Linked DNA regions of Homo sapiens: all the other regions are linked to region 3. The links come from fine-mapping of genetic effects on gene expression. A gene starts in region 3. Each other region holds a variant in brackets. All regions are shown on one strand. Distances are from middle to middle.

Region 1 (4,000 bases), 47 kb before region 3:
TTTTTATCAGAGTATAAAATATAGAGCAGGGCTTGGAGGGTGGGGGTGTAAATCATCTTGTGTTTCTGAAACTGTCCTCACTGCACTCTCCTTCTTGATTGATAGTTTACTTATACGTAGAATTATAGGACACGATTATTTTTCCTTCAGCACTTTGATGTTCTAACTCCATGGTTTTCTAGCTTTGATTGTAGAGGGTGGATCTGGTCTTAAATATTTGCCATTCCTTCCCAAGTAAAGTTTTAAAATGTTTCTCTTTACCCTTGATGTTCAACAATTTTACTATTGTACTGAGGTATGGATTTTTAAAGTACTGTCATAAATGTGAGATTCCATCCATAGCTTTTATTCTGAAAAAGTCTTAGCACTTTTTTCTCTGAATATCGTATTCTCCTCATGTCTACATTTATCTGCCTGACCTCTTAACGTTTTCAGTGTGTCTTTCGGCTGTATACTTGTAGACTTCATCAGTTCTGGGTGATCTTCATTATATCTTCAACTGTCTCCAATCTGTTTCTTAATTATTTAGATGTCATTGTCCAGGTTGGGCGCAGTGGCTCATGCCCAGCACTTTGGGAGGGCAAGGCAGGAGGATCACTTGAGCCCAGGAGTTCGAAGCCAGCCTGGGCAACATAATGAGACCCTGTCTCTAAAAAACAATAATAAAATAAATAAAATAAAAATTAGCCAGGTGTGGTGGCATGCGACTGTAGTCCTAGCTACTCAAGGTGTAGAGGTGGTAGGATTGCTTGAGCCCAAGAGGTCAAGGGTGCAATGAGCCATGATCATGCCACTGCATTCTAGCCTGGGTGACAGAGCAAGACCCTGTCTCAAAAAATAAAGTATATTTCATCGTCCATAATTATCAGTTCCAGGTTTTTTATATTTTTGGAAGGGTGCCTAGCTTAGTTTTATAATTTCCTGTTTTCGTTTTTATGACTGTTATTCTCTTTTCCTGAGAAGTTTAAACATACTTACAAGTAAGTATTTTCTTCAAGACTTCTCTATTTCCTGGGTTATAAACCTTCCTGTTTGTTGGATTTGCTGGTGGTTTTTCATGCCCTATACTCTTATGTCTATACCTGAATGACAGTTTGGCCAGTTATTAAAATATAATAACACCCTCAGTTGGAGGCCTTTGTAGCCATCACTCTCCTCTTGTCAAATGCTGCCGTGGAGATGTCAAAAGCTAGCATACTTCTTTTCCCTTTATAAATGGCTTCATGTTTTCCCCTGGCCATCCAGGGATTCTTCATTGTTCATATTATTCTTTATATTTTAGTATTGATTACTCTCTACCAAATTTTCTTGGAACATGATGTGCCCTTGATTGTATAGATTCAAAGGTATAATTTAGGAAAACTCAAATTTTCTAGAATTACACTTTTTTTTTGAGAGATTCTCATTCTGTTGCCTAGGCTGGAGTGCAGTGACGTGATCGCAGCTCACTGCAACCTCTGCCTCTTGGGTTCAACCGATTCTCCTGCCTTCAGCCTCCCTAGTAGCTGGGATTACAGGCATGTGCCACCATGCCCGGCCAACTTTGTTATTTTTAGTAGGGATGGGGTTTCACCATGTTGGCCAGGCTGGTCTCGAACACCTGACCTCAAGTGATCCACCTGCCTCGGCCTCCCAAAGTGCTGGGATTACAGATGTGAGCCACCACGTCTGGCCTCATTTCAGCTTTCATTTTATTGCTTTCACTCTAACCCTTTACCTCTTTATTTCCATTTGTTTTTATTATTCTCCCTTACGCTGTTTCACTTTTGCTTTCATTTCTATAATTTTATTTTCTACTTCTTATTTGGGGTCTTCAAACTTAATTTCCTTACTATTTCCTACCTGATCCCTTCTAAGTCATGATCTTGTTTATATCAACAATCACTTGTTTTAGTTGTTACAAATTGTCTGCAGTGTTTATCCTCATGATGGCAACATTTTGAGAGAAATGTCTTCCTGCCTTTGCTTTTCTCATTCGCCTTTTTCCTTTGTGTGGTGCCTATGCTGTTTCTTCTTCTTATCGTCGAGTATGCTTTTTCGGATCCAGCTATCTGGAAGAACTTAATATAGGTCCGGGCACAGAGATTTTCCTTGTGGTGACGTAAGTTTGACCGTGAGCATTCTGAGCCTTTTCTTCTTCACGGCCCAGAGTCAGGCAAGTATCTCAGGCAGACATGTTCTGCCATGTGGTTTGTCAGGGTGTTTCCTCATTCACCCCCACTTCCTTTGCATATCTGAAGCAGACAAGGTCCTAGAAAACTTCAGTGCCAGCCTTTCCTTCTAGAGAACTCTGGCTTTTACACTGAGGCTATGCTCTCTACTCCATTCTCCTGGTCCCCTTTAAGCAGCCTCTGAAACTTACAATTCAAGGTTTCACTT[C/A]TCTCTTAATTTTATCGAAGAGGTTCATCTGTCCCTAGCCTCTGTGAGCCAGCTTCCTTATAGGTCAACTGCAAATACTTCCTACCTTGCCCAATTGTGAGGAGCCGAGAAGAGAACATGTACGTAACAGCAGCGTTTCTCAACCCACCGGCGTGCCATTCCTGGCTGACTTGTTTTCCTAATTAACCTTTTTCCTCCCCACTTTCAGGCAGCTACTGCACGTGCTTAGACTGCCGTCACGTGCTCCACTGCCTCCGCACATGCTGTTCCCTCTGCTTATCAATCAGATTTCCCGGCAACTCTGGTCTTGTAACCACCATCACAGCCTTGCCATCCCTGGTCCTCAGACACCCTGTCCATACCTCCAAGTTGGCGCTTGTCAGTCCAAGTCATAGGGTGATGACCTTTGTATAGTCACCACATAGCATGAAGAGGCTCTAATAAAAGCTGTTGCATAAATGGAAATGAGTTTTCCACATTCCTCAGTGTATCTTGCTCTAATGTAAACGCTACAGTCATCAAGTCTCCAATGGGAAACAAACTAGCCCTTTAAAGGGACAGTGCCCTGCAAATTGTCAGGGAAGGATTTTACCAGCTAGCAGTGGTATACTTCTCCTCCACCACCACCCTGCCCTAACCGCCCACAACAGAACATACTGGAAAATGGCTATTTTACTGAACAGCAAGTTTTTCTTCCTCCCTCCCATAAACCAGGTTCAATGACCTCCTCCTGCGATGCCGAGAACTCGATACTTGGACACAAGACCTTACCCTTCCGGCTGTCGTGTGGCTCTCCGGCTTCTTCAACCCTCAGTCCTTCTTAACTGGTAAGGGCTGACGCAGTGCAGCCCCTGATGCACACAGGACCACAGCCTAACCAGAAGCCCTGCTTTGTTTACCTATGATGGCGTCTCCTTGCCCTGCTCACCAATCCTCAAGCAGCAGCCATTATAGAAAGGACCAGCAGCTATAGAGGAAACAGAGTCCTGGGCAGGCGAGTAGCAGCAGGAGGGAAAGGACCTCCTATAGCAGCAAGAGTAGCCAAGTGAGGTGGGGCACGGTGTGCTCTTATTAAACATTTTCTGGAAAGGGCCACATAGCTTCTCTGCTACTGTAGTGCGAAAACCACAGACAATCCACAAATGGCTGTGACTATTCCAATAAAACTATCTACAGAAACAGCGAGCTTGTCCTGCAGGCCTTAGTTGGCCAACCCCCTGCTCCAGCGCAGCCATGTGCCAATGCCCAAGAACCTAAAACACCCTATGGGACTAAAGGATGCCTCAATTTACTGGTAGCTCCCGGGAACCTTACATGCAACACTTTTATCCTATTCAATTTTTGTTATATTTCCAAAGCAATCATGCAGACGATGGCTCGAAAAAATGAGTGGCCCCTGGATAAAACGCGCTTGACTGCTGATGTTACCAAAAAAACAAAGGAAGATTATGGACACCCGCCAAGGGAAGGTGCATACCTCCACGGACTCTTCATGGAGGGTAAGACACCCCAAGGGGTAAGTGGGGAACCTTTTCTTACTCAGGTTCAGATCAGTGTTTGTCCTCTGCTTACTGTTTCTCAGCATCTCCTCACTCACACAGTAACCTTATGCTAGTCATTA
Region 2 (4,176 bases), 22 kb before region 3:
TGACTTCTGCATCTGCTCCAGAGGTACCATTAGGGGGCTATAATTACTGATTAGGAACAAAAGGAAAGAGCACACTTTCAAAAAAACGGTGTGCATTCCTGGGGTACGCAGGGCTCTGATCCTTCAAAAGGTATTAAAAGAGTTTCAGATAGTCACAAGCTTCAAGATTTGCCAAAAAAAAAAAAAAAACTGTAAAATATTCAAGTGTCCTCAATGCAACGAACTGATTTGTCTAACAGATGCAACAAAGGCAGCAAGATTTATATGAGAAGGACCTGATAGAAAGGATACACAGGGACCTCTTCTAATGAATGACCAGTTCCACAACACAGTGATACATTAGGCCCAAGGATCTGTCACTTTCCTGTTCCATTCAGCAGCGATCCACTGGGTAGCTGCATAGTCTAGACAAAAATGCAAGACCTTTTTTTTTTTTTTTCAAAGTTTGTGTTCCATTCTATTACAATAAAGCCAATCATAAGACTCACCAAAAAGAAAACTACAACAAGTAACTGAAAACAACAAAAATACAAAATTTCTCAATCAATGGATATTTACATTAGTTGAACTTCTGAATTAGGATAACTACTATCTAGTGAACCAAAAAAAAAAGGGAAAATTCTCATCTGAAAGTGAAAAGACCGTTTCATTATTTATAATACTTGTTAAAAATCGACAACTTCATGCTATTCCTTTCATGTACAGTTTCTGTTTGTCTACTCTGTCTTTATTGGAATTAACAGTGTGAATATCATCAAAAGTCATATGGGGGACCAGGATTCAATTCTATGAGAACACAGGTACTAGAATGGAATCCACAGGCACCTAACATAGAGCCCAGCCTAAAGCAGATGATCAACAAACCCTTGCTGAAAGCATTTACATGCATCTGACTTTGTAGCCATTTTCTTAAGAAAGGTGTATTTTACTAGGAAAATACTAAGTCAAAAAGGTACACTCTGTGACATTCCTACATGAGGGGAATTAAAAATTTTCACCCAGAATCCTAAGACATCTTTCTACAAAGCAGTCATATTCACAGCTCCCCTTTCAGAAAGGACTGCAGGTTTCCCTTATAAGCCATACAGATTACCTGAGAGCTTTTCTCTGAAATACATTATGCCAACTCAACAGGCTTTGGGGCCAAGCAGGTGGGTAACAGGGCAGTAGGTCAGCTGTAGGACAATATGGGATGGTGCTGACTGGTAGGCTGAACACATATATCAGGGAAGGCAGGCCACTCCTCCACTCCAGCTGATCACTGCCCTGCAGGAACAGGGGTCTGGTGTGTCTGACCTCCAACATTCCCAGAGAACCTGAGAATCTGAGTGTTGGTAAGAAACTTCCCATCTACAGACTGGATCTCAAACTTGTTCAGGGAACATGCACGGTGGAACTCATAGGGCTCTGTGGGACACCAAGGAAACTGCAAATGCCAGAATTCCAAATATTACCAACAGTATTAATATATCTACTAGTGCCTAGTAGTAATAGTAGAGGGCATCAAAGTGTTAAGAAGATTAAGAAAAACTTTATATCCTTTCCCTTATTCATGGCATCATGATTCACAAGAGCCAAAAGGTGGAAGCAATCCAAGTATCCATCGATGGATAAATGGATAAACAAAATGTGAGACATACATATAATTGAATATTATTCAACACTAAAAAGGAAGGAAATTATGACACATGCCACAACATGGATGAACTTTGAAGACGTTATGCTAAATGATAATAACCCAGTCTCGATAAAACCAAGAACGGTATGATTCTACTTATAACAGGTACCTAGAGTGGTTGAATCCTCGGAGACAGCAGAATGGCACTTGCCAGATGCTGAGGGGAGGGAGAAACGTGGAGTTACTGTTTAATGGATACAGATTCAGCTTTCCAAGATGGAAAGAGTT[T/C]TGGAATTTAAATATGCTTAACACTACTGAACCATACATTTTAAAATGGCTAAGATAGGAGATTTTATGTTATATGTATCTTAGCACAATTTAAAAAGAATTCAACGAAAAAAGACAAGAAAGACAATTTAAGCCAGGCATGGTGGTTCATACCTGTAATCCCAGCACTCTGGGAGGCCGAGGCAGGAAGATCACTTGACCCCAGGGGTTTGAGACCAGCCTAGGCAACATGGTGAGACCCCGTCTCTACCAAAAAAGATACAAAAATCAGCTGGGTTGTGGTGGCGTGTGCCTGTAGTCCCAGCTACTCATGAAGCTAAAATGGGAGGATCGGTTGAGCCCATGAGTTAGAGGCTGCATGCAGTGAGCTATGATCATACCACTACACTACAGTCAGGGTGTCAGTGAGACCCTGTCTCTAAAAGAGAAAAAGAAAAAAAGAAAAACCGGGGTAGAGGGGAATTTTTCCTTCCTTAAGTGAATGAAATCTTCCAAACTGACAGAACAAGTCCAGACCTTAGCCTAGTTTTAATGGTACCATCACTTTAGGGGCATGTGGCTTAAGAACCCAACTCTCTCACCTAAGGGAGGTTCAGATACATCATTGTAGGTGCCAAGGCTTCAGCTTTAGTGTCTGACCAACCAGGTATCTGAGCCTGTAAGCCCATTAGTTAACTGATAGTCTGGAGGACAAAGCTGTTTGCAGAACCACACTTGGCTGAAATCCAGCTTTGTTCTATCCCAGCTAAGCTATACTAATAAAAATAAACCCTGCTGAGTTGCTGCTGGCTTCTCGTTGAGTAGGTGCCTTTCAGGCATACAAAGCAGTGCTCTGGAGGTCTCCATACCATTTTGACCTTTGTCAGCCTGAGTCTCCATTAAAATTCAATTTAAAAAACTAATAAGCTATAAAAAGATCATCAAACTGTCAGTTGGTATTCAATCAAGTATTTACCTTTGAAAATATTTTAACGTGAAGTATTGTTCATTTAAAACTTTATATTGTGAAATTAAGTATAATATTTTTTAAATTAAAGCTTTTCCATAACTCAATGATATCTAAATTCATCCTTCCTGGATTAAAAAATACAACCTCCTACCCAGAAGGAACACATTTATCAGTATTAGTTTTTGAAGAGAAAGAAAATAAGATTCACTTTTTAGGCCAACTGATACAAGGGCTGATTCTGATATACTCCAAGAATATTCAGTGTACATTTCACCTAGAAGCAAGCTCTATTTTAAGATTTAAAAAGCAGACAAAAGATATTTATGCACACTACTGCATTTTCCTTATTAAGTGTTTTGAAAGCAATTTTGATAGCAATGACAGCAGAATTTGCAAGGTGTACTATCTTGCATCTATGAAAAGAGATCTACACAGAGGAGAGCATTCCTTCCTCTTTAACACACCACGAAGGGCGAGAACTGTTATTTTCTTATGCAAAATCATTTCTTTGAATTTTTTACAAATAAATTTGTTGGCCCATAAGAAAAGTACATACCATGCACCAACCACAAGAACTAACTCAAAATGGATCACAAACTTGAATATAAAACTATAAAACTTTTAGAAGAGGAGAAAATCTTTGTGACCTTAAGTTAGGCAAAGAATTCTTAAGATACAACACCAGATACAACACAATACAGATCTTTAAAATGTGTAAAGTAAACAATCAAAATTAAGAACTTCTGCTCTTCAGAAAACACCGTTAAGAGAATGAAAAGGAAAGCCACACACTGGGAGAAAATATCTGCAAATGCTGTCTCTGATTTGCACCCAGAAAATATAAAGAATTCTCATAATTCAATAAAAAGAAAACAAATAAATCAGATGGTCGACGAGTTAAATGGTAAACAAGCACAAAAGAGAATTAAATTAACACACACATGCATCTGACCTCTGAATGGGGAGGACTTTCACCAATCACGTAAAGGAGACCAAAATGGAAAAGTAGATCACTGACCATGTAACAGTTTAAAGCTTGCTACTTAAAAGAAGAAAATTCAGAAACAAAAACAAACAAACAAACAAAAAAAGGTAGGGCAAAGATCTGACAAAAATATGACAAATTATTAAAATTGCTAAAAACCTCATACAAAATGAAATATATACCATGGCCACACAGACAAAATGGCAAAACAAAGAAAACTCACTAGGGAAAACAAAAGAGGCTAAAAACACTTTAAAAGTCCTCAGCCTACCTAGTAATGAAAAGAATGGCAAGTAAAACAAGTATTCTTTTCATCTAGCAATTTAGCAACATTTT
Region 3 (4,176 bases):
AGACTATAATCTGTGCACATTTAAATTACGATGAACAGGAACATTTCCACTGGAAAAACCATCACACATCTTTGATTTGCACTGCCAATTAGGTCTTCAGAAAAGGAAAAAAAAAAAAACCCTGATCATCTTACATATAGTAATTTGCCTTAATTGGTGCATAATGGATCGGATATAATTTGTGGGTAACCCCTACATGATAAATAGTTTATTTAACATTTTAGAACTACCAAAAATTAGCCTCATTGTGTGGCAGTAAACGCTCACTTCCAACTACACATTCTGGGACTTCTGAGTTTCCTAAGCATGAATTATGAATATCAGTAGTGGAAGTGCAAAGAACTCTCCAGCTTAACAACAGGAGTGACACATTCCAGAAACATTTTCTGATTACATTCACAAGGAGCTCCGGAGTGATAAATTCCAGATACATTTTCTGACTAAACTCACAAGGAGCTCAAATCTCCATCCAGAGGGTTTGTTTTTTGTTTTTAGTCCTGTAGCAACAGAAACTCCTAGAAGGTTAGGACGCCAGCCGGAAGTGGTGGCTCACGCCTGTAATCCCAGCACTTTGGGAGGCCGAGGCAGGTGGATCACCTGAGGTCAGCAGTTCAAGACCAGACTGGACAACATTGTGAAACCCTGTCTCTACTAAAAAAAAAAAAAAAATACAAAAAATTAGACAGGCGTGGTGGCGGGCGCCTGTAATCCCAGCTACTCGGGACGCTGAGGCAGGAAAATTGCTTGAACCCGGGAGGCGAAGGTTGCAGTGAGCCGAGGTCGCGCCATTACACTCCACCCCGGACAAGAGCGAAACTCCGTCTCCAAAAAAAAAAAAAAAAAAAAAAGGATGCTAATACACGGTAAAAGCCAGTGGCAAAAAATAAAAAATCGAACCCTGTCTCATTCCGTAGGCTTTACTGTTTCCCTTGCTTTTAATAGTTTATCTCACAGGAGGCATTTTAAAAATATTCTCAGAAACATCAACAACAGATTTTTCTCAAGCGACCATTTTCAGGAAGGCTTCAGAAATTACTAAAAGGCCAAAGCTACCGTTAGTGGCTCAGTCTTTGCCGCCAGACTCGGGCAGGTGACAGCGGTTTGGGCTCGGGCGCCGGGCACTCTGCGCCTTCCAACGCTGGCGGCCCCGCCTCCCCTTCTCCCGGGCCAGGCACGCAGGTGGAGGAAAGTAAACACCAGTCGGAAGCAAGGTGGAAGCAGTGAGTCTCGCGACTCTCAATAAAACAAGTGGAAAAAAAAAAAAAAACAATCCTCGCACAAAGCATCTCCGTGCTCCCACAAGCAGAGGCGTGGCTGCTTGTTTCCCTTTTTAAAGGTTGTATTTTTAGTTCTTATGAAAAATGTTTTTATTGCTTACTTCTAAGTAAACATGTATCTCCATTACGATAACGTAGAGAAAAGCTCTTTTAAGAAGTAAAAAGAGAAAACTGAAGTCACGTTCACATTCCCACTACTCACTGAAACGTTTGGGGGAACTTACTCAAGTGTTTGCTAATGAGTTTTAAAGACGAGTTAGGCCCTTAACGCGTAATTGGGGTCGTGCTGTGCATATGATTTGGGATCTTGCAGCTTGTTTAACTCGGCCCAATGACGTTACCATTTCCCCCAAATGGTTACTAATTCCTTGAAAACGTTTACAAAAGTTCTAGAATAAACACTAAAGTTATTATTTTTAAACTCCATTATCCAAGTTGGACTGGTCTGGCGATCGACTGTTAAAAAAAAAAAATTACAACTTTCTTAAGCTTCCTGATCTCTGTGCCAATTCCCGGAGAAAGTGTGGGGAGTGCACAAAAAAAGCCCCTCCCCCGTCTCACGAGGGCTGCAAACGCAGGCGCTGCGCCCCGCTAGCTCCCCGCCTGCACCCCCGGCGGCCACCCGAGACTGAGCAGAGCGCCAGGCTGAGCGCGGTTGTGTGCTGGGGCGACCGGCCTCTGTGGTCCGCGTAGCACAAACGTGACCCACTGCGCACACCTGCAGGGCGCGCCCACTCCGGCACTCAACCGGCTGGGCGCGCCAGATCCCCAGTGCCGCAGCCAAGGGCCACGTTTCCAGCCCAAGGCCAGCAGGACCGGGTGGCAAAGGGAAGTCAAACTGTGGGTGCGTCCGGACGGCGGCGGGCGGCCGGACCCTCACCTGGTAGCGAGTCGCCAACTCCATTCTTCCTAACCGGGCTCCAGTCTCCTCCCAGCACGCGGCCACGGGAGCCCGGACTCACCACGGCCCGGCGCACCAAGAACGCCCCGCGCCCGAGCAGCTAGCGCGCTCCGCCCGGAGCACAGGCGGGCCCCGGGAGGGGCGCACTTGACGCCCTGGACAGGGGGAGCGCGTTGCGCTGCCCCCTCGGTGCCGCCTCACTGGGCCTCGTGGCTCCGATCACGTTCCAACTTCGCGGCCACTGACCTTGTCTTCGCAGGCGGCGCGAGAGGGGGCTGCAGTTGGGCGCGGCAAGAGCAATTACCAGTGTTAGGGCGCCGGGCTCCCCCCTGCAGCAGAGGGAGGGAGTGGAGCCGTCCGGCGGGGTTTAGCGCGGGAGAAATGAGGGGGCTGTCCCGGCGCAGCCTCCAGCTGGCACGCGCGCTGGATACTTGGCAGGGTTTATTCCAGGTCATGCCCTGGGGCGCGAGCTTCTGCTGCAACCCCTGTCTCTGATCCAGGCAAATATTGTAGGGCGGCTTTGGGGCTTGTTTTGTTTTGTTGTTGTAACGGGGCAGGGTTCTCTTTGGGAAGATTCTGTCTCCCAAAACATTTGCTACAGGGTTCACTTTGCAGAACAGGCAACCCAGGTTTCTTTACCAAGGCCCAGGTGGACAGATGCAAACCCGCCTGAAACTTTAGACGGCCATTACACAGTAGGCCTCCACACCCACCAGACAAAGAGTTTGTAGAGGTCAGGAATGCTGACTAATTTAACAGAATTGACCCCGGCATCTACTAAGCATCAGGCACTGGGCTAGTCCTAGGAACAGAAGGGTGAACAAAAACAGGCCCCTGCTCTGTTGGAGTTTACAGCCTGAGAGCCAGTTACCAACCTAATTGCATTATTCTAAATAAATACAATAATGATGCAAATAAGTGTAATAACGATGTAAATTTTATAAATTAGATTTATAATTAATATTAATTTGATACCACTATCAATGACAAATGTAATGATGATGCAAATAAATGTAAATTTGGAGCGATGATGCCATGAGAAAAAAGGCAAGTGGTATTAATGGTGGTGTGAAATAGGAAGACAATCTGATAGAGGTCAGGGAATACTTCTTAGAGTTCAGATATGAAGAGTGAGGAATTAAGTTTGTGGAAATTGTGGGAGAGTTGAAGTAGAGAGTGGGGAGAATGGTAAATGAAGTTGTCCTGAAATCACAGCAGGTTTGCTGGACAGTGTTGCACACCTATTTAGAACCGTGGTCATAGGTTTACAGTAGAGCATCCTGTACGCATAGGACCTTCTGCAGCCCCTCTCAGCTGCTTAGGATCTGACGTTCATCTTTTCTTTATTGAACGAGTGAATGAAATTTGCCAAACATTTACTCAAGCTTGAAGAGAAAACATGGAAAAGGTTTCCTTCCTTCCTTTGGTTAGTTCAGCAAACAACATGTGTTATGTGCTTTCATGTTCCAGCCCTCAGTGTTCTCACTTCCTGGTGGTAGTAAAACCAATACAACATTGTGTGACTTAAAATGTTTTGTTTTTATTGGATAATGTTATTTATTCATTATGGCCACTTCATTTTTATTATGCTTTAGAGTTTTCCTTCACATGCAGTATCTCCTTGAATCCTCTCAATATCCTTCCAGATCCTTATTGTCCACATTTTTAAAATAAGGAAACAGAATCTAAGAAAATACATTAAGAGATCCCTGCCACCCTGCCACTAAGTGACAGCAGCAGACTGCCAAACTGAAAACCATTCCTTATGCCTCCAGATCCAACATTCTTTCCATTTTTCTGTATTTTTTCCCTTTGGCTGCCAGGAAGCTTAGAGTGAAAATTAATTCAATCAGAGCTCTTCTTCCTCTTTTTTTTTTTTTAGATAGTTGCTTCCTCATGAACTGCTGATCTTGTTTGCACTTCTTTTCATTGTAGGTTAAATCAAATCAATTTTGGAAAAGGGAGCACAAATTTGAAGCAGGTCAGATTTTGCAAAAC
Region 4 (4,000 bases), 94 kb before region 3:
TGGGTGTCCTGGATCTTTGGTTTGGTATCTTTCATTAATTTTGAAGAATTTTTAGCTACCATTATTTCCAATCTTTCTTCTGCTCATTTTTTTCTTTTTTCTCCTTGTAAGCATCTCACAGTTCTTGGATATTCTTTCCTTTTTAATTTTTATTCTTTTTTTTTTTCAAGTATCTAATGACATATGTCTAAGCATACTGATTCTTGTCACTGTGTCTAGTTTACTCATGAGCCCGTCAAAAACATTCTTCAGCCGGGCACGGTGGCTCACGCCTGTAATCCCAGCACTTTGGGAGGCCAAGGCAGGCGGATCACAAGGTCAGGAGATTGAGACCATCCTGGCTAACACGGTGAAACCCCATCTCTACTAAAAATACAAAAAATTAGCCAGGTGTGGTGGTGGGAGCCTGTAGTCCCAGCTACTCGGGAGGCTGAGGCAGGAGAATGGCGTGAACCCGGGAGGCGGAGCTTGCAGTGACCCGAGATGGCGCCACAGCGCTCCAGCCTGGGCGACAGAGGAGACTCTGTCTCAAAAAAAAAAAAAAAGAAAAAGAAAAAGAAAAAAAATTCTTCATTTTTGTTACGTTGTTTTTTATGTCTAGCATTTCCTTTTCATTCTTTGAGTTTCTATCTCTACTTACATTGCCCATGTGGTCTTGCATGGTGTTCACTTTTCCATTAAACCCGTTAGCACATTAAGTAGTTATTTTTAACTCCCAGTTTGATAATTCCAAAATTTCTGCCACATCTGAGTCTTGTCCTGAGGTTTGCGTTCTGTCTTCTTCTTTTTTTTTTTTTTTTTTTTTTTGCCTCTAAGTATACCTTGTACTTATTTGTTGAAAACCTTGAAAACCAGACATGATGTATTAGATAACTGTCACAAAAGTAAACAGAGGTTTAGTGTGAGGTTTTATGTTTCCAGGGCTAGGAGTTACGGCTGTGTCTCATGTTCATTTAGCTGCAGTTTTACCTGGTGTCCTTGTTTTTGTCTCCCTTGTTGTCCTTAGGTTTCCCTAAAAACTGATTTTTAAATAGAATCTGTGCTTTGCAAATCTCTCAGTTATAATCCACTGATATTATACTGGAGTCTGTCAATGTGTTGGTAAGGTATTATGGAGGGGAAGCATTCTTTTCTCTTATAATTACATCTCAGGGTTTTTTAGGAGCTGTGAATCACTGGGATGTGGCCTTCAGAAGAGTTACTCAGCCTTTTTTAAAGGACAGGAATTCTGCCTTCCCCAGTGATATGGTTTGGCTATGACATCACCCAAATCTCATCTTGAATTGTAGTTCCCATAATCCCCGTATGTTGTGGCAGGGACCCAGTGGGAGGTAACTGAATCACGGGATTGGTTTCCTCCATGCTGTTCTTGTGATAGTGAGTGAGTTCTCATAAGATCTGATGGTTTTATAAGGGGCTTTTCCCCCTTTGCTGGGCACTTCTCTCTGCTGCCGCCAAGGAAAGAAGGACATGTTTGCTTCCCTTCCACCATGATTGTAAGTTTCCTGATGCCTCCCCAGCTATACGGAACTATGAGTCAATTAAATCTCTTTTCTTTTTAAATTACCCAGTCTCAGGAAGTCCTTTATCGCACCTTGAGAGCAGATTAATACATCCAGGTCATATTAGGCACTGGCCAAGTAGTTTCCCTTGTGGGCAGGCTTTGGTTAAGGAGAACAGAAAGTTCTGGACATATTTAAAATGGTTACTTTCCCTCTGAGCTTATGTCATAATGGTTACTTTTCCCATCCTTAGCCCAGAGCTGGTGTAGATTTTATCTGACCTTCACTGTAAGAACCGGATGGCATTTCCTGGAGGTAAAACTCAAAGAAGTGTAGAGACTACGAAGACTGGGCCCCTCTGAAGTTTTAATTCAAGCTCTACTTGCATGTCAGTGTTCCCGAGAAGCTGTGATTCTCTGTGTTTGCCTGTTTTTAGGATGGCAATTTGTCCTGTGACCTCCGTTCTCTGATGTATGTAGGAAGAATTGTTGATGAGTTTTTTTCCT[A/G]TTTTGAGAACGGAAATGAGACTTCTAAGCCTTTATATGTCTGAGCAGAAACCAGAAGTTTCTGATGTTTTCTTAAACAGATTCTTCCTGTGGTTCATGATGTTAAATTATTGTTAAGCGTTTATACTCTGCACCCTGGAGTGCAACTAGATCTTAACATACCTTCTGAAGTTTTTTAAAGAATTTCTAAAAATTGTGATTGGTATGATTTTAATGTTAAGGGTGTTTTATTATATACTGATTCCATGAAATTTGTGATTAAGGAAACTCTGGTTTAAAAACATTTACTTGTCCAGGCGCAGTGGCTCACGCCTGTAATGGCAGCACTTTGGGAGGCCTAGGTGGGTGGATCATTTGAGGTCAGGAGTTCGAGACCAGCTTGACCAACGTGGTGAAACCCCGTCTCTACTAAAATACAAAAAAAAATAGCTGGATGTGGTGGCAGGCACCTGTAATCTCAGCTACTCGGGAGGCTGAGGCAGGAGAATCGCTTTAACCCAGGAGGCACACGTCGCAGTGAGCCAAGATCATACCACTGTACTCCAGCCTGGGCGACAGAGCAAGACTTCCTCTAAAAAAAAAAAAAAAAAAGTACTTAACCACCATTTCCCACACTTTTCTTGGTTTTTATTAGTTGGTATTGACAAAGCACCAAAATGATTTTAAAATTGAGCTCAAGTATCTGGAAGACGATCTCCTTTTGCGCCTTTCTGCGGCAGAGGGAAGCTTTCTGGATGACACCAAACTGGTAGAGAGATTGGAGGCAACAAAGACCACCGTGGCAGAGATAGAGCACAAGGTAGGAAGGGCAGAGGGTGCCTGGCAGATTCTAATGCTCTGTTCGAATGAGACATGTGGGGTGGGCAGTGTGATCAGACTTGGTAATTCCTCTAAGAGGACCAGCGTGTGGAATTCAGGTGATTTAATAAGCTGCAGTTGGACTGTGTGGGATTGTAAATGGAGATGGAGATGGTTGAATGTGTGCTTCTCCTAATTCCATAGAGATGTCATTCAAATTAGACACTGTCCGGCTATTATTTTTCCTGGGTGACCAAATGTGAAGAAAAGCTGAGGCCTGCTGGCTTCTATGGCTGAAAATCTGAAAAGCCTTAGCATCCGGCTCTTCCAAACTCATATCCTACAGTTTCTCTGCAGGTTCTCCAAGCTGTTGGACATTTTAAAGAAATTCTTAGAGTGAAAGTTTTGTTTACAGGCCTGCCGTGGCAGGATACCGAGCAAAGGATAATCTCCTGCTGTACTCAAATGCACTATTCACCCCAGGAAAAATGACATTTCCTAAAAGCCAGTAGAAATTTTTATTAAATAGGCTTCCTGCTAATGTCCAACATGGGTCCCAATATGCCTTATGTGTGATGTGCACTTTGGACTTTCACAGATGACCGTTAACCCTTAAAATGCCATTGTTTCAGTGTGAATTAGACCCTTATTTGCTTTCTGGAATATCCTTATTACTAAGTAATCTATTAATTACCCAGCAGAAGCTGTGTCACTACGCATCCTTTATATTTGTCTTAAATTAAGCGAGGAAATGGAATCCCAAATTACTCTGTCTTTTCAAGTAAGTGAATATTAGGTGGCTCCTAAGATGGTAAAGTTAGAACAATTAAGTAAATTAACTTAGCTTTGAAGTTAACTTCTAATTGTCTCTTAAAATGTGTCTTCCTATCTTCTTAATATATCACCATGTAGTGACTTCCTTCTCTGCCCTACATTTTATTTCCTTTTATACACAAATATTATGAGTCAACTCTATAGAGAAGGTTGGGGAAAATACTGTATCCTATGGGACCAGCAGTAGTCCTAGATAAAAGAAATAGATATTTGAGCCTTGGGTAAAACTGATATGTTGGTTGATGGTGGTGCTGGTTTTTCTTTTTAAATTATCTCTCTGAATGTACCCAGAGGCTAATACATAAAGATAAACTAAATGGAAATATATGGACATATGGATGATCCAGTGCAAAGTTAGAA
Region 5 (4,000 bases), 350 kb before region 3:
GACGAGCAGCTGACAGCAGCCACAACGTGGCTGACATGGCAGGATGACTGCTGGGGCTACATCGAGAGGGTGAGGGCAGCCACGTCCGAGTTGGAGCACAGAGTTGAGCGCACACAGAAAAACGTGAAGGTGATCCAGCAGACCATGAGGGGCTGGGCCAGGTGCGTGCTACCTCCCAGGAGAGAGCACAGACGAGAGGCAGCCTTCACCTTGGAGGACAAGGGTGATTTGTTTACAAAAAAATACAAGTTAATCCAAGGAGATGGCTGCAAGATCCACAACTTGGTCGAGGTAATGGCTTTTAACCTTTCAAGATTTATAGATCTTTTCATTGAGTTCAGAGAAGAGCAAAAATCTTTAACCTAATAATGTGGGACTCTTTTATCAAGCCTGAAAGAGCTTTATGAATGGTATTATTAGGCATTTAAAGTGGAGGAATTTGTGTTACTTGCCTGCAATTTCTGTAGCCCTCACCACTGTCATTCCTGAGGGAAGAGATTAGAATGTGAGATGTGTTGATTAAACAGAAAGGCTAGTGATAGAATCTTTATCTTGTCACAGTTGCATCCTCTTTTGGATGCTCCTTATAGCTACCACTGTTTGTTGACTGCCTCGTATGTGCCAAACAAACAACTTCCTTAGGTCATCTCAAGGTACCCTCTCAACCATCTCCTAAGGGTGGCAACAATAATTACTCTCCTTTTAACAAAGATTTGAGTTCCTAAAACAGTAACAGGCACTCATCTAGGCTTGTGAATGCAAGAGAAAACAGAAAAAAAACACACACACACACACAAAAGGCAGAAGGCAGGAAAATAAAAGCAAACAACACAATGCTCCCCTGCCAACCACCACCAAATCCTTTATTTCATGGAGCTTACACTCTAGTCAGAGGAAGTTAGCAAGAGAAAAGAACAAATAGATATGTCAGTTGTAATAGGAGCAATGATGAAAAATAGAGCAGAGCAGGTGGGATAGGGAGTCGCTTGCGGGTAGGGTGGTTGGGCAGGCCTCTTTCCTAAGATAGTATTTCTGCAGAGAACTGACAGGGAACAAAGCATATGGATATCAGGAGAAGAACATTCTGGAGAGCAAAAGTATAGACACTTTGAGGCAGGAGCAGCCTGGCCTGTTCCAGGATCAGTCAGCAAACTGAGATCAGAATTTGCAAGGGGAGTGGTAGTAGAGGGTGAGGTAGAAGAGACTAATGGTACATTATGTGGGGTTAGCAGGCTGTTATGAGGACTTTGGATTTTACCGTAAGGGGAAAGAGCAGCCAGAGACTTTCTGCTCAAAGGCTTTCCCTGTGGAGGGTAAGCCACAGGCAAGCAAAGAAGTGGTTGGCAGGGAGACTCTTCAGAGCCTATGCTAATAATCCAGGTGAGAAATGATGCTGCCTTGGGTCATAGTGCTAGTGATCAAGGCAGTTCATATCCTGCAGATATTTTGATGGCAGAGCCAGCAGAATTTGCTTTGAGGAATCAGAGGAGAGAGAAGTCAAGGATGATTTCAAGGTTTTTGGTCTGAGTGATTGGACTGGACTGGGGTTGCCCTTTAATGATATGAGGAAGACTGTGGTGAGCAGATTTTGTAGCAGAAAAAAAAAGGAGGTTTGGTTTTGGACAAGTTAGTTAGAGATGCTTGTCCTAAGGGACATTTTGAGTAGACTAGAATTGCAAATGTGTCTTGTGTTCAGGGCAAAATCCAGGTAAGTAACAGAGAATTGAGATTTATGCACATATGTATGGTATTTAGAGCCATATAATTAGATTAAGAACATGTGGGAATTGTAGATAGAAAAGAGGCCCAAAAACTAGCCTCGAAGTCCTCCCTAGGTCAGGGAGAAGAGGAAAATCCCACAGAGGATACTGAAAAAGAGAGAGTGATGCCCTGGAAACCAATAATAGAAGGGATTTCAAGGAGGAGGAAGAGCTCAACTCTGTCCCATCCTGACGTAGGACCTGAAAATAAAGACGGAGGCTAACCCTCAGATCTGGCAGCACGGAAGTCATTGGGATGAGGAGAGGTGATTTCATGTGGTGGCAGAGTGGAAGCTTGGTGGGAGTGGGCTGATGAGAGAATGGGGAAATATGAGTGGAGGCAGCTGAGGAGATCCTGAGGAGCTCTGCTGTGTGGCAAACCAACAACTGGGCAGTACCTGGGGCCTGTGTATCAGGGTGGGGAGGGTTTTATTTTTAATAGTGGTTGATGTTTCAGGATGTTTGTATGTTAACTGCAGTAATCTAGGAAGGAGAAAAAATTGTTGGAAGAAAGCCATTGAGG[GA/G]AATGGGATTTAGTAAATACCTGTAGAAGGTGTCTTTAGACAGGAGCGCGGAGCATTCATCTGTAGTACAGGATGGAGGGAAGGCAAAGATAGGAATGTGGTGCTCACAGATGTGCAATGCTGATGATGGGAACATGGGGAGTTGATTTCTTGTTGTTACTATTTCTTAAGGAAAAAAGGGATAGGAATGAAAGAGCGTATTTCATGTTTCCTCTGAGCATCCTTGTTATGTGGAGTCTTCTCTATAGACCAGCACAGTCCTTAATCCATGAATACTCTCCTTTGGGCAAGGCAGACAGACCCCCTCCCCTGCCCCTGCTCCCCCCAGACACAAAATCTCTCTCTCTCTAACACACACACACTCTCTTTCACACACACATACTCTTTTTCTCTGTATGTCACATACTCTCACACACAGTCTCTTCCTCTCACATATCACACACACACTCACACACACTCTTTCTCCCTCATGCACACTCTTTCATACACACATACACACACACACACACACACACACACACACACACACTCTGAAGCCATCATGAAGTAGCACAGTGTGGGGTAGGGAAAGTGTCCTTGGTAAAGGCTGGAAACCAGAGTCTTCCAGAGGCTGGGCCTGAATTTTCTCATGTGTAAAATGAAGGTCCTTGTCTCTAGGATAATTCTCAGCAGAACAAGAAATAGATTACGGTTTTCCTGCTGGGAATTGTATGCAACCCATTATGTATCTTGTCTTTGCAGTCCATCATCATTCACTTATTTGAGAAATATTTATTGTGAGCATTGTGTGTACCCAGCACCTTTCTAGGTTTTTGAAATATGAGAGCAGAGCAGACAAAGTTCCTTGCTCTCATGGAACTTGAATCAAGTGAGGAGAGAGACAATAAGCAGTGACATAGTAAGTCGTGCTGTGTTAGAACTGGTACGCGCTGCAGGAAAAAGATCAAATTGGAGCAGGGCAAGGGAATTCTGGAGGGTGGGGTCGAGGATGCAGTTTTAAGTAGGATGATCAGAGTAGGCCTCAACCAGAAGGTGAAATTTGAACAAAGACTTGACAGAGGTGATAGAGTCAGCCAAGTGGGCCTTTGGTGAAGAGTGTTCCAGGCAGAGGAGATAGTTTTGGGGCAGGAGATCCCTGGGCATGCTCGAGGAGGAGCAGGGAAGTAAGTGTGGGGGGAGTAGAGGGAGCTGAGTGGAGAGTTGCTGAGGTGAGGTCAGACGCTAAGCTGCGTGGTGAGGGACTGGCAGCTCAGGGGAGGCTTCATAGGCCTTTTTGCAGATTCTGGCTTTGGCTCACTCTGAGGTATGTGAAAGACACTGCAGAATTTTGAGATTTTGAGAAGGGGAGTAAATACAATCTGACTTTCATTCTAAAAGGATTTCTGGCTGTTGTGTTGAGACCCTCTGTAGGGAGGCTAGGGAAGAGGCAGGCCGACCTGGTAGGTTGCCATTCTTACTAGTAATCTAGGGGTTCCGTATGTTCAGGCTGATATAGCAAAATACTCTAAACTGAGTAGCTTTAAAACAGCAGAAATGGTTATCTCATAGTTCTGGAGGACCAGGTGCCAGCATGATCAGTTTCTGGCAAGGCCCCTCTTCTAGGTTGCAGACTGCCAACTTCTCATTGTGTCCTCACATGGAGGAAGTTCCCCTGGGCCTGTTTCATATAGGCAGTACTTTCATTCATGAAGGCTCTGCCCTCAGGACCTAATCACC
Region 6 (4,000 bases), 60 kb before region 3:
ACAAGCCCTCAGCTCCATCTGTGGCAAGGGGATTTGTTTGCCTGGACTTTTGGAAAATACTAGGATTCTAAATACACCCCAAATTCAAATTGTGTGGATGTTGCTTTCTTTTCCTGAATCAGATAATACAAGCTGATATAAAGCAGATAATAAAAACATGTCATACTTCAAAGGCCCTGTGAACCAACATCCTTTCACAATTTTTAGATGAGAATTTGAATGTATAAACTTTCCCTGCAAACATGTTCTAGGGATGACTCAGTTTCTTTTAAAATCTGCCTAAGGCTGGGCATGGCAGCTCAAGCCTGTAAATCCCAGTACTTTGAGAGGCCAAGGAGGAAGGATGGCTTGAGGCCAGGAATTCGAGACCAACCTGGACACCATAGTGAGACCCCCATCTCTACAAAATTTTTAAAAAATTAGCGAGATGTAGTGTCCTGTGCCTGTAGTCCTAGTTACTTGGGAGGCTGAGGCGAGAGGATTGCTGGAGCCCCAGAATTCAAGGTTGCAATGAGCTGTGATTGTGCCACTGCACTCCAGCTTAGGCAACAAAGCCAGACCTCATCTCTTAAAGAAAAAAAATCTTCATAAACAGCTCAATGTTAGTGAATTTTCACTGACTATATTAGAAGACACTGAAAATAATTCTCCCAAGAAATTCTCTGCAGAAACTTAGACAATTTCTGAAGCACCTTTAAATCCTCCTATTGACGGAGGCTTGGAGGGCATTGTGTTAGAGGGGCACGTGCTACTGGTTGGCTACTCTGAGGCAGACTCTGCACCCAGCAGTGAATATTTGTGTGGTTTTCTCCACAGGTCCCATGGGAAGATCTCCGTTATCTCTTTGGTGAGATCATGTATGGAGGCCACATCACAGATGACTGGGATCGCAAACTGTGTCGGGTGTATTTAGAAGAATTCATGAATCCATCTCTGGTAAGACATTTGTAAATTAATTTGTAAATAAATTTCACTGAGCAAAAAATTCTGGTAAGAATTTTATAAACTAATTATACTATGGGCAATTCTTAATGTTATTGAGGATGCTTGGCCTTTTGGGAAATTTCTTAGAAAAGCGGAATCTCGGGTTCCATCCCAGACCTACAGAATCAGAATCTGCATTTTCACAAGTCTTCCAGGTGATCTCTGTGTGTGCTAGAGAGTGCACCAGCGTGAGGCAGCCTCACATGCACTGACTCATCGGCTCTTTATAAAAACCCTATGAGGTATGCAGAGCTGACGCTGTTATTCCCTTTTCTAGACCGAGATGCTGAAACATGGGGATTTGCCCCAGGCCACTAGGTTGGCACAGGCAAGAGTTTTGTGCGTCTTTTGATAGAAGTCTTTTGATTTCTATTCCAGAGTTTATTTCACTAAAGTTTCTTTTCTGCCTGTCATGGAAGTCCTAGAAAATAGTCTACAGTTGGACCAGTATCAGTTACTCAATTATAATATGTGCTCAAGAAAAATGTGGTCAATATGTATGTGAGGTGATAGATTTGTTAATTAGCCTGATTTAACCATTCCACGATGTACACGTGTATCAAAACATCACACTGTGCCCCATAAATATATATAATTATTATTTGTCAATTTAAAATAAAATTAAATCTAACAAGATAGTAAAAAAAAAGATTATATATATCAACCAAGGGCAAGGTAAGAACCTTATTTGGATCTTGTTCCAAATGAACTATAAAAAAAAAAAAAAAAACACACACATTTATGACACAATGGGAAATTAACATTAACATATCATGGTAATATAGAATTCCCGTTAATATTTTATGTGTGATAATAAAGTAATATAGTTATGTTTTTTAAAAAGAGAAAAGATGCTCCAGGGTGAACCTGGAGGACATTA[C/T]GTTAAATGAAATAAGTCAGACGCAGAAGGACAAATACATGTTCTCACACACATAAAGACTCTTAAAAAGCTGATCTCCTATAAATGGTGAATAGAACAGTGGTTACCAGAGACTGGGGAAGGGGAGAATGGGGAATGAATGGTCAACAGATACAAAGTTACCATCCTTAGAAAGGAAGAATAAGTAAGTTCTCGTGTCCTATTGCACAGTAGGGTAACTGTAGTCAACAATACAATATTGTATATCTAAAAATAGCTAGAAGAGAGGATTTTGTATGTTCCCACCCCAAAGAAATGAGAAATATTTAAGATGATGGGCCTGCTGATTGCCTGATTTGATCATTACACAACATATACATGTATCAAAACATCGCATTGTACCCCATCAATATGTACAATTATTATGTGTCAGTTAAAAAGACAAGTATGGTGATTTGAGAACCTCATTCTTCCTTCTCTCGTGAGGAAGAGGTAGATCACCCCTGTAGGTGGAGTTTTAAAAGACCAAGCATCCTTTTCCCATTTCTCATCTTAGTAACCCTGTGTCTGTGTAGAAATGGTTCCAGCCCGGGGCTGTGTTTTCTGGAAAAAGTACTCCATTTTTGTTTCTCGTACTACAGAGGGTGAGCGTGGTGGCTGTAGTTTTCTCATGCTCTCTCTCCCTCATGGCATCCAGGTTCATGGCCATTCCTGGTTATTTCTTGGAAACGTAAAGCACCTGTACACCATATCATGTCTATTTCCAGTTGGGCGAGACACCAACTCTGTTTAAAGCAATGCTTTGAATAGTTTGAGTGATGTCCTATTTATAGTTTCTCTGAAAATTTCACCTCAGAGAAGCATTATATAGATTTGATCACCTTCCTAGAGTTCATTTTGAGAAGTAATATAATCATATCAGTCTAATATTTAGTGTATATTAGATTAAATCACTAAAATCATATTAGTCTAATATTTAGTCTATTTTAGACTAAAATACACCAGGAAAACATAGTGTATTTTAGTCTAATATAGAAAACTGGGGACATTCTTTTGTTACTACTTTTAATAATGTGGAACAGTTTGGAGACAGTGCAAAAAATGCACAATGTTATGTAATTGTTTCTTTTGATTGTGAGTCTCATGGTCTTTCCTTAGTTCTAATGAGCAAGATTTCACATGTCAGAGAGAGACTTCCAATTTAGCACAATTGGAAGTCACTCCTCAGGAAAGGTCTGGGAGCAAGTTACCATGGAGATGGGAAAGCTAAACAGTGCCAGGCATGCGACCTTTACAGAGGCTGATTTCTCCGAATGATGGTGGAGGGCAAGGGGCCCGCGAGGAGCTCCCCTAGCTCTGGCCTGTGGCTGAGGGGAGAATTACTGTTGCCAAATGCAGCAGTCCATTAACCTTCACAAGCCTGAACTCCCATTCAAATAATTGTAAAATAAATATAGGTGATGAAACCTGAAGGGGCATCAGTGATGTGTGTAAGCCCTTTAGAAATTTAGGTACCTGACCTTACATACAGATCTGGCGAGGTTTCCAGGATTGAAATGCTTCATTTTGCAAGCTGGCATCCTCACTGGAGAGGTACCTCCTCAACTCACCAAAGGAAATTAAAGCACTTAACTGACTTGCTGTCAGAGGCTGCAAATCCCAGTTATTTTGTTCTCATGCACGTTTCTCCTGTTTATGCTGTTTATATGATTAGCAACATGATCTAACACTTCATCTGCAGGACATCTTTTTGCCACTTCCCACAAGTGGTTAACATATTTGGAAATTAGTGTCTTTGGTTGCATTGGAACATGATCAAAAAGCAACCCATTCATGGTGTGGGGTTTAAAGTTCTGCTGCTCTTATCCAAAGAATCAGAATGCTTTCAGTGATATCTTGCTGTTAGGAGGATCAGTGAGTTTCTTGTTGAATAAATGAGTTTGCTCTCAGAGAGAGTTCTCCAGTGGGCTTTAGAGGGTCTCTGGCCAAAGTCAAGAAAGAAAACATCTTCTCACATAAAGCATGTATTTGGCAGCGTTAATTAAGAAATACAGTAAATCACTTTCAGAGAATAAGGTACCAGGTCACCTTAAAGTTATCATATAATACAAACTATTTTAGTAATATAGAATAACAAGAATCTGGGGTTTGAAGTAA

Which allele goes with the higher level. Alleles are on the strand shown, and positions count from the first base shown. SD is a standard deviation of normalised expression in the study named. Not every link is listed here.
In carriers of allele T in region 2, the expression in cerebellar hemisphere of the gene that starts at base 2,276 in region 3 tends to be lower than with C alone (moderate effect, 0.53 SD a copy in GTEx).
For the expression in esophagus muscle of the gene that starts at base 2,276 in region 3, GA is the high allele of the variant in region 5 and G is the other (small effect, 0.25 SD a copy in GTEx).

Evidence for each region. PIP is the estimated chance that this variant, and not a neighbour inherited with it, causes the effect.
Region 1: its variant is fine-mapped to the expression of CDCA7L in whole blood (INTERVAL, PIP above 0.99).
Region 2: its variant is fine-mapped to the expression of CDCA7L in cerebellar hemisphere (GTEx, PIP 0.93).
Region 4: its variant is fine-mapped to the expression of CDCA7L in whole blood (INTERVAL, PIP 0.99). The same link has a PIP of 0.9 or more in T cells.
Region 5: its variant is fine-mapped to the expression of CDCA7L in esophagus muscle (GTEx, PIP 0.95).
Region 6: its variant is fine-mapped to the expression of CDCA7L in whole blood (TOPMed, PIP above 0.99).

The regions. Positions count from the first base shown.
Region 1 is chr7:21,896,243-21,900,242 of GRCh38, forward strand. It overlaps DNAH11 (dynein axonemal heavy chain 11), which reads left to right. Exons shown (of 82, transcript NM_001277115.2): 80 at 3,094-3,206; 81 at 3,738-3,878. Among named protein-coding and RNA genes, the nearest start is that of CDCA7L, 48 kb to the right of the region's middle. RefSeq lists enhancers at 1,920-3,119, 2,071-2,130. The variant C/A (reference allele first, on the strand shown) is at 2,380.
Region 2 is chr7:21,921,170-21,925,345 of GRCh38, forward strand. The region is part of intron 1 of CDCA7L (cell division cycle associated 7 like); the gene reads right to left. Among named protein-coding and RNA genes, the nearest start is that of CDCA7L, 23 kb to the right of the region's middle. The variant T/C (reference allele first, on the strand shown) is at 1,907.
Region 3 is chr7:21,943,624-21,947,799 of GRCh38, forward strand. CDCA7L (cell division cycle associated 7 like) reads right to left here and starts at 2,276. Exons shown (of 10, transcript NM_018719.5): 1 at 2,158-2,276. The coding sequence starts at 2,181. RefSeq lists a silencer at 1,895-1,944 and enhancers at 2,085-2,234, 2,230-2,940, 2,625-2,874.
Region 4 is chr7:21,849,825-21,853,824 of GRCh38, forward strand. It overlaps DNAH11 (dynein axonemal heavy chain 11), which reads left to right. Exons shown (of 82, transcript NM_001277115.2): 67 at 2,643-2,807. Among named protein-coding and RNA genes, the nearest start is that of CDCA7L, 94 kb to the right of the region's middle. The variant A/G (reference allele first, on the strand shown) is at 2,009.
Region 5 is chr7:21,591,287-21,595,286 of GRCh38, forward strand. DNAH11 (dynein axonemal heavy chain 11) reads left to right here. Exons shown (of 82, transcript NM_001277115.2): 14 at 1-291. Among named protein-coding and RNA genes, the nearest start is that of DNAH11, 50 kb to the left of the region's middle. The variant GA/G (reference allele first, on the strand shown) is at 2,284.
Region 6 is chr7:21,883,475-21,887,474 of GRCh38, forward strand. DNAH11 (dynein axonemal heavy chain 11) reads left to right here. Exons shown (of 82, transcript NM_001277115.2): 76 at 817-936. Among named protein-coding and RNA genes, the nearest start is that of CDCA7L, 60 kb to the right of the region's middle. The variant C/T (reference allele first, on the strand shown) is at 1,865.